2 separate regions of the Homo sapiens genome follow, and region 1 is linked to region 2. Evidence: fine-mapped expression QTL. A gene starts in region 2. The other region holds a variant in brackets. All regions are shown on one strand. Distances are between the middles of the regions. Region 1 holds the start of MIR4472-1 (microRNA 4472-1). Region 2 holds the start of LY6S-AS1 (LY6S antisense RNA 1).

Evidence for each region. PIP is the estimated chance that this variant, and not a neighbour inherited with it, causes the effect. A credible set is the group of variants that fine-mapping cannot tell apart.
Region 1: its variant is the best candidate, but not a certain one, in a credible set for the expression of LY6S-AS1 in naive CD8 T cells (Schmiedel 2018, PIP 0.58).

The regions. Positions count from the first base shown.
Region 1 is chr8:142,175,265-142,179,639 of GRCh38, forward strand. It overlaps MIR4472-1 (microRNA 4472-1), which reads left to right and starts at 1,075; the gene lies at 1,075-1,154. The variant C/G (reference allele first, on the strand shown) is at 2,595.
Region 2 is chr8:143,037,428-143,041,802 of GRCh38, forward strand. LY6S-AS1 (LY6S antisense RNA 1) reads left to right here and starts at 1,782. Exons shown (of 6, transcript NR_149322.1): 1 at 1,782-2,142. LY6S (lymphocyte antigen 6 family member S) reads right to left here. Exons shown (of 4, transcript NM_001406478.1): 4 at 3,412-4,375. RefSeq lists enhancers at 1,454-2,005, 4,027-4,375.

The DNA.
Region 1 (4,375 bases), 860 kb before region 2:
GGGGTCAGGGTGGAGGGTGCATCTTATTTGTTTGTCCTTTTGCATCATGCCTGGAGAAGCTGAGTCTCAGGACAGAGAGGGATTCTTGACATGACCTGGCCCAGAGTGCCACCTGGGCAGTGCTTCTGTCCCCTCCAACAGCAGAGTGCCACCCAAGCAGTGCTTCTGTCCTCTCGGGCAGCAGAGTGCCACCCAGCACCTGCAGGGATGCCTGGACACAGGGAGCTCGCTCTGCAGGGCGAGGCTATGGGTGATCCCTGCACCTGCTCTGGCTCTGGTGCTTCCAGGGGCCCCTAGCTACTCCCATGTTACAGGCCCAGGCCCAGAGAGGCCAGGGGAGGTCCCCAGGATCTCACAGCCAGCTGGATAGAGTGGAACGTGTGTGGCCCCCGATTCCCGGCAGGCACTTGTCCTCCAGCCAGACCCACTGCCTGGCACTCACCGGATGCTCTTTCTCACCGAGGATCAACTCTCCCTCCCTGAAGGGCGCCGGACCCTGAGCCTGCCATCTGTGAAATGGGATAGCAGTGCCTGCGTCTCTGGTACTCACGGGACCCTCCATCCTTGGAGATTTAAGAGATGTGGTCAATATCACCCCACACAGTTCCTGGCACGTGGTTGACAGCCAGGGACCACCAGCTCCCGCACCCTCAGAACAGCCTTTCCGAAATCCCAAACCTTCCCTGAGAGCCGCCAAGAATACCCTACCCATCTCCCTGTGGGGAGCATTCAGCACTCCAGGAGCGTTTATGGAGCACCGACTGAATCCCAGAGTCTTCCCAGGCTGCAGGCCCAGCCCTTCCTGCACTGCGGCTCAGGAATTTGCAGAGTGTCAGGCGAGACGCCCCCGTTCCCAATCACTTCTCTCATTGTGGGGCTTCATTTCTGTTCCCTTTGGTTGGGGCTGCCTGCTCAGCTCCCAGCGTTCTATTTCGGCTCACAACATTTATAAAAATGCATCCGAAAACCCTGGCGCTGCAATCTGGAACTAACCTGCTTCAAGTCCTCAGACAAAAGCTCCTGAATACTAATTGAAAAGTGATTAATTACATTCACGGAGCCCCATCTCCTCACTGGCAGACCCTTGCTCTCTCACTCTCCCTAATGGGGCTGAAGACAGCTCAGGGGCAGGGTGGGGGGTGTTGTTTTTGTTTTTTTAAGGCTGAGTTGGTTTAAATCTCATTTAATTTTCACAAGGGAGAGCCTTGAGCCTCAACTCAGATCTTAACTCGGGTCAGATCTGTCCCTGATCTGGACAAATCCCGGCCCTTCTCGGATTCTCATTTCCTTCTTTGGAAGGTGGGGCTGCGGCACCTGGGGGATTTTGGAAGGCGACCGTCCAGAATTCCAATCCCGGCTGCTCATAATTGCTGCGGTGGAGCCCTGGTCAGGCCCCAACACGGGCTCCCTGCCCCCGTCCTTTTCCCCACTCCCTGCACACCCATAAACATTCTACCCACAGTCCCTGTGGTCTTCCAGGACTCTGCTCAGAGCTCACCTCCTCCAGGCAGCCTGCCGGGCCCTCTTCTCTGCTCCACGAACACCCTAGAACCCTGGGCTCCTCCCTGACTTCTATCCCCACAGGGTGTTATGGCAGCCGGTCATCCACTCTAGACCATGAGCCCCTCGAGATTGAGGCTAGCATCCAGCCACCCCCAAACCACAAAACTCACCACAGCCCCTGAACGAGCTGGAGGAAGACCGCAAGCTCCACACCTGAGCCCCGGGACAGAGCCAGACTCCAACGATGAACCAGAGCAGAAGAACCTTGCACACAGTAGGCATTCAGTCAGTGACCTTCCACCCTGCCCAGCCTCTGAGTGTCCTTGGACCAGTACCTGAAGCCCCTCTGGGCCTCCATTTTCTCCCCTGTAAGATGGGTTGACTAGGAGCCACGCCCAAGACTGAGGGATTAATGAGACGATGCGTGCCAAACACAGGGCAGCATGCAGTAAGCGCTAAATAGATGTCCACATCCCTTTCCCGGCCTGCCCCTTCCCATTCCCGGCCCCCAGGGTTTCCGGAGCTGGGTCTCCATGCCCCTCCAAGGCTGCCCCTGGGCCTGGGGAGAACAGGCTGCTGCAGGTAGGGGGCCCGACCCTCTGACCCTGAAGAGACAGCCGCTGTCACTGGAGGGACAGGGGCCCGGGGCGCTGGCGACCGCTCCGGAGCAGGGTGGGAGGGGCTCCAGAATTCAGGTCCGCCAAGCAGAGGCCATGGCCAAAGGCTGCGCACAGGTGGGCCCCTCTAGCAGGGCTGCCTAGAGAGACCCCAAGGGGGGTCTGGAGGGGTCAGGGAGGGGCAAGTGATGGGCAGGGTCTGAGGGGACTGCGTGGCCAGCCCCCTCCATCAGACCCCCACTTCCGCTCCAGAGCTCAGAGGGGCAGCTCAGCCGCAGACCGGAGGCTGGGGTCACGGTGGCACCGAGAGGAAGCAGAGGCAGCTGAGGGCCCCGCCTGCCGGCGCCAGCCCTCCCTTCGCTGTGGGGTCGGTCCCTCCTCGCTGCACCCTTAATTACAAGTGTCCTGAAATCCTGCCAGAACACACTCTCTGAGACGGTTTCCCTCATTTAAATTCTTCCCTGACATTTGTAC[C/G]ACAGTGAACAAGAACGAAACTCCTGGGAGGAGGCACGGCCTGGCGCTGCGGAGTCTCCCTGTTGGAGGAGGAAGGAGGAGGAGGAAGGCAGGACCCTGGGCCTGGCCTCCAGAGAGGAGGTGCACGCAGAGAAGACAGCGTGGGCAGCCACCACGACCACCGCTCCGGGCCCAGGTCTCCCTCGTCCTTCCAACAGCCCCGTTTTACAGGGAGGGAAACTGAGGCTGAAATGGGAGAAGTGACTGGAAAGGCACGTGGTGGGGAGCCTCTCAATTTGTTCTGGATAAAAACATTCTCTCACAGGGTCCGCAATTCTACAGGAGCACTCACGGCTGATTCAATAGGAGAATTCCCCTTGGCCAAGGAACAGCCACTCCCAAAGTGTGAAGGCCTGGGCGGCCGCTCACCTGAGGGCCCTGAGCTGGCCGGGCCAGTGCATCCCTTCATCTGAGTACCCCCCAGCACCAGCCAGTTCATCCCCTCACCTGAGTCCCACTGTGGCCAGTGCATCTCCTCACCTGGGCACCCCACCACCAGCCAGTGCATCCCCTCACCTGGGCACCCCCCCACCAGCCAGTGTATCCCCTCACCTGAGTCCCCCCCAGCCCCGCGGCCATTGCATCCAGACTCTACTTCCATGCAGACAGCAGTTGACACTGCACCCCTTTACAGAGGAAAGAACCAGACTTCATGTCCAAGGGTGGGATGATCCCACCCCAGCTCTGCCACTTGCCAGCCGTGAGGCCTTGGGGCAATTCTCACTCCCAAGCCTCAGTTTCCCCACTTGTTAAAGCAGGATGAGCAGCTCTGAGGTGCTGAGTTGCTCTGGAAGCAACTCCACTGGGCCAGGTAGAGAAAACCCTGCACAGGCCTCCTGCAGACGGGCGGCCACCTGTTCTATGTGGGACCCGCATGCCATGGGGGCCTTCAGGAGCTGTCCTCACCAAGAGGTGTGTCTGAGGGTGAAGCTTCGGGTACTGAAGCAGATCCCGGTGAGGCCTCAGCCAGCAGCACACAGCTGGTGCCAGCGACGCCTCCTGCCTCAACCCACCACAACCCACCATGGCAATGAGCTTGTGTCTCTCATGGGCGTCTTTGGGTTTGGGGTTCTGTGTAAGACAAGGCAACAAGTGTCGCCAGAAGCAGGAGCATTCCCCGGGATCAGCAACCCGGGGAAGGTACGAGACCTTGCCAGACACCAGGGGAGGGAGGGGTCTCTGCCTTTGCCTCCTGCTAGGGGCCAGGCCTGGGTCTTGAGGAGGAGACAGAAGCCTGGGGAGGCTCCTCTGTGGGTCCACACTCCACTTGGGGCAGGCCTGGGGGTTGGCCGCAGCTCACCAGCCAGGCCACAGGCCCACGGCCCCGAGCCCAAGCTGCGATGGAAAAGCACGAGGTGACCCCCGAGCCTCCGGCCCCGGACTTGCTCCCAGAGGGGCTGCCTCTGTGGCTTGGGGGTGAGGCCTGGCCCTGGGGTTTGTCAAAGCTGCAGGAACCAGAACCTTCCCCCGGAATCAGGAGCACCCACCACCTCAGCTCTCAAGAATCCCAGGATCCTTCATTGTGAGCTGGGCCCCCGTGCTTTGTCCTGGGCATGGAAGGCCTGGAGTGGGGCCGGGGGACGGGCATTCAACACATGTCCCTGGGTCCCTGGGAACACTGGCACTGGCTACCTGAGGGCCTCACTGGGAGATACAGACCCGGCCCTGGTCCATGTTCAGTGCGGCCATTTCCCTGCTGTCGCCCCTGAGGCCCCCATGCTCAGCCTGGATTCATTGGTGCT
Region 2 (4,375 bases):
AAATATTTTAGAGTTTGGCTTTCTTTCATCAACACATCCCATCCTGTAAAACGCAGAGTAAGCCGGAGAGAATGGCTCACACCTGTAATCTCAACACTTTGGGAGACCAAGATGGGAGGATCATTTGAGGCCAGGAGTTCAAGAGACCAGCTTGGCCAACAAAGCAAGACCTCATCTCTAAAAAAAAAATAAGTAAATAAAAACAAATGTGAGTGACTTCACTCTTCTCTCCCAGAGCCTCCAGTTGTCACTTTTCTGAGTTTCTTCAGGGTCTCTTGAACTGTACTCAGGGTGTCAAGAGGTACAGTTGGGAAGGATGGGGGCCTCTAATGAGGGGGTTAAGAGCATCATTCTGGAGGAGACATGAGGGAGGCAGCAGAGAGGGGCTGTGGTGTGGCCTTCACACACTGCAACTCCTGGAGGTCGGGCAGGGGCAGGATGTCCAGACAGTGGACGCATGAGTGGGGAAGCCTTCAGCCACCCTGACTCCACCTAGGAGGTGCCCCAAGGCAGAACCAGCAGCTGAGCCTGGCCAGCCCCGGCAGCGATGAGAGACAGTAGGTTTTGGGGTGACCAACAGGGAGCCCCAGCAGGAGCCCAGCAGGAGAGAGAAGCTGGATATTGATCCTGCTGGCCCCTCCTGCAGTCCGCAGGACTGTCCACAGCCCTCGCTCCTCTTAAGCAGCTCACCTGCCTTGGTGGCCCCTCCCCTCCTGGCCCCTCCTTTTGGGCCTGGGTTGGGGGTGGCAGGGGTCCTGTCCCTGCACCCGGAGTGGAGTGGGATATGGCACTGGAATGTTTCTAGGCAGCCCACTCCTGTAAGAGGGCCTGGGGCTGGGCCCAGTAGTTCACACCTGTAATCGCAGCACTTTGGGAGGCTGAGGCAGGAGGATCGCTTGAGCCTCGGAGTTCGAGAGCAGCCTGGGCAACATAGAGACCCCACTTCTACTTGAGAGACACACAGAGAGAGAGAGAGGGAGGGAGGGAGAGAGGGAGGGAGGGAGAGAGAGAGGGAGGGAGGGAGAGAGAGAGGGAGAGAGGGAGGGAGGGAGAGAGAGAGAGAGAGAGAGAGAGAGAGAGAGAGAGAGAGAGAGAGAGAGAGAGAGAGAGAGAGAGAGAGAGAGAGAGGGAGAGAGAGAGAGAGGGAGGGAGGGAGGGAGGGAGAGAGAGAGGCTTCTGGTAAATGCTCCTATTTTGCAAACTCTCTTCCTATTTTGTGATTAGGATGCTCCATCAGTTTCTGCCACCAGCTTGCTGGAGACGCTGCGTGTCCCTGACTCCTCTCAAAGGGTGAAAAGCTCAGTCGCACCCGAGACCTGCTCCTCAGGCAGAGGATGAACTGAGTCCCCGCCCCACCGCCCGTCTGGCCTCTGTGAGAGTGGCGTGCAGGCTGACCCTGGAAGCAGAGGGACATTCGAACGGGCCGGCGGCCTTCTCCCCGCTAGGCTGGGCTCCGGGGTGGGCGGAGAGTGGCCGCCACAGGCCATCAGCGTCCGGGGTTCTGGAAGCAGGGAGGGCAGAGGCTGGCCCAGCCTATGGGAGACCCTGCAGAGGCGTGGCCTCCAGGCTAATCCTACCCCAGCTGCCCCAGGGCGGGATTTCTTTTCTTTTTTCCTTTAATCTCTTTATCTACAGGCGCCGAGGCTTAATGAGCTCCAGATGTCTCAACATACCAGGAGAGGTTTAGGATCCCCTGCCAAATACAAGGGAGATAAGAACGCACCAGACTTGCACAAACCAGAGCTGGTGACCCCCAGTTCCCTTTAAATCAGCGACATGTCATTACAAGGCGGAAGTCCTGCCCGAGAGGACAGTCCCCAGGCCTTGCTAAGCATGCGTGGTATCAAGAGGTGCATTGAGGCGCTCCTGCAGCCTCCTCCCGGCACGGGACTCCTCACAACCCCCAGCCTCAGCTTCCCTGACAGGGCAGGGGCTCACTCTTCTCCACTCCGGGCCAGGAACGCAGCCTGCTTGCCTTTTGTCCAATTGGGTGCTCTTTCTTTGCGACTGATACAAAGTGGGAACAAACTCCGCTTCCGGTGATGCCCGGGCCCCAGGAGGCTGGGGGAGAAGTGCACGCTGCCCAGCCTTCAACCTGAACTGCCCCCAGCACTTCCGAGCCCCGACCCCTGCAGCTGTGAGGTGAGGTGGGGAGGGGGCGGCCTGCGGGGAGGGGGCTGCCTGCGGGGAGGGGGCTGCCTGCAGGGCGGGCCGTGTGGGTCCCCCGAGCGTGGGGGACCAGTGACGTCAGGCAACATTTCTCCAAAGGCTCCCTCACCTTGTCCTTTGGCATCTGGGGTGCTCAGAGGAAGGGGGAAGCCGGGAGGGTGTGGAGAGGGTCACTGGAGAGGGGAAAGGCCAGAGTGATCCCCTTGGGGACGAGGCAGAGGAAAAGCTGTGGAGACCTAAAGAGAAGAGGTGGGGTGCGCCTGGGCCTCTCAAGTTTGTTTCCCAGAACCAGGGAAGGTTACAGTGGAAGGGAGGACCCTGTGGGGAAGAAGCTTCCAGAGACCTTCTGGAGAGGTGAGCCAAAGGCGAGCCATGGCCAGAAACCCCAGGCCTGCTGCAGTGGAGAGTCAGTGCTGCAGGAGGCTTGGGAATCAGGGCTGCCCTCCTTGGGCTGAACCCTCTATCTAGGGGACAATGGCCCTGGGCAAAAGCACTGCTTTCTGGGCCCCCTGGAGGGTAGGGCATGACACTGTGGTGCTAGAGGCAGGGGGGACATGAGGAGGTAGACGAATGTCCTGAGTCACCAGGTACAACCACTGCACCCCATTGTGACTGCCCCTGTGTCCGACACAGATTTGGGGGGTCTGGAATGTCCCTTGAGCTCCTTAGGCACTCATGAATTTCTAGTTGAGCAAATAAAATGTCCAAGATGCCCAGTTTGATCTGAATCTCAGATAAACAACAAATAGTCATTTTTACCAATGTTTGGGACATACTTATGCTAAAAATTGTTTATCTGAAATTCATATTTAATTGGGCATCTTACCCCATTGACCCTAATTAGCAAATCACATCCAGGAGTACAGGGCATGGCTGGGTGGTGGCTGTCACACTGTGCAGTCAGAGGGACCAGGACGTCTTGGATGCAGGCGTCTGGCCAGCGTGGAAGGCCAGGACCTGGTCACGAGATGTGGCTCCCGGCATGGCAGGTCAAAGACTGCTGGTCGTCTGAGCCCAGCCCTGACTCCAGGCTGAGATGGCCATTCACCCAGACCTTGAGCCCTGCCCTGACTCCAGGCTGAGACGGCCGTCCACCCAGACCATTCTGAGCCCTGCCCTGACCCCAGGCTGAGATGGTCATCTATCGGGGGAAATTCACCCCCGATATTTCATGTAGGTTCTTTTCTATTTTCCCTAAGTGTCGGCCAGTCTGAGAAATAAAGGGACAGAGTACAAAAGAGAGAAATTTCAAAGCTGGGCGTCCGGGGGAGACATCACATGTCGGCAGGTTCCGTGATGCCCCCTGAGCCGTAAAACCAGCAAATTTTTATTAGTGATTTTCAGAAGGGGAGGGAGTGTACAAATAGGATGTGGGTCACAGAGATCACATGCTTCACAAGGTAATAAGATATCACAAGGCAAACGGAGGCAGGGCGAGATCACAGGACCACGGGACCGGGGCGAAATTAAAATTGCTAATGAAGTTTTGGGCACACATTGTCATTGATAACATCTTATCAGGAGACAGGGTTTGAGAGCAGACAACCAGTCTGACCAAAATTTATTAGGCGGGAATTTCCTCATCCTAATAAGCCTGGGAGCACTGCGGGAGACTGGGGCTTATTTCATCCCTTATCTACAACTGTAAAAGGCAGCCGTCCCCAAAGCAGACATTTCAGAGGCCTCCCCTTAGGGATACATTCTCTTTCTCAGGGATGTTCCTTGCTGAGAAAAAGAATTCAGCGATATTTCTCCTATTTGCTTTTGAAAGAAGAGAAATATGGCTCTGTTTCACCTGGCTCACAGGCAACCAGAGTTTAAGGTGATCTCTCTTGTTCCCTGAACGTTGCTGTTACCCTGTTCTTTTTTCAAGGTACCCAGATTTCATATTGTTCAAACACACATGCTCTGCAAACAATTTGTGCAGTTAACACAATCATCACAGGGTCCTGAGGCAATATACATCCTCCTCAGCTTACGAAGATGATGGGATTAAAAGATTAAAGACAGGCATAGGAAATCACAAGGGTATTGATTGGGGAAGTGATAAGTGTCCATGAAATCTTCACAATTTATGTTCAGAGATTGCAGTAAAGACAGGCATAAGAAATTATAAAAGTATTAATTTGGGGAACTAATAAATGTCCATGAAATCTTCACAATTTATGTTCTTCTTCCATGGCTTCAGCCGGTCCCTCTGTTTGGG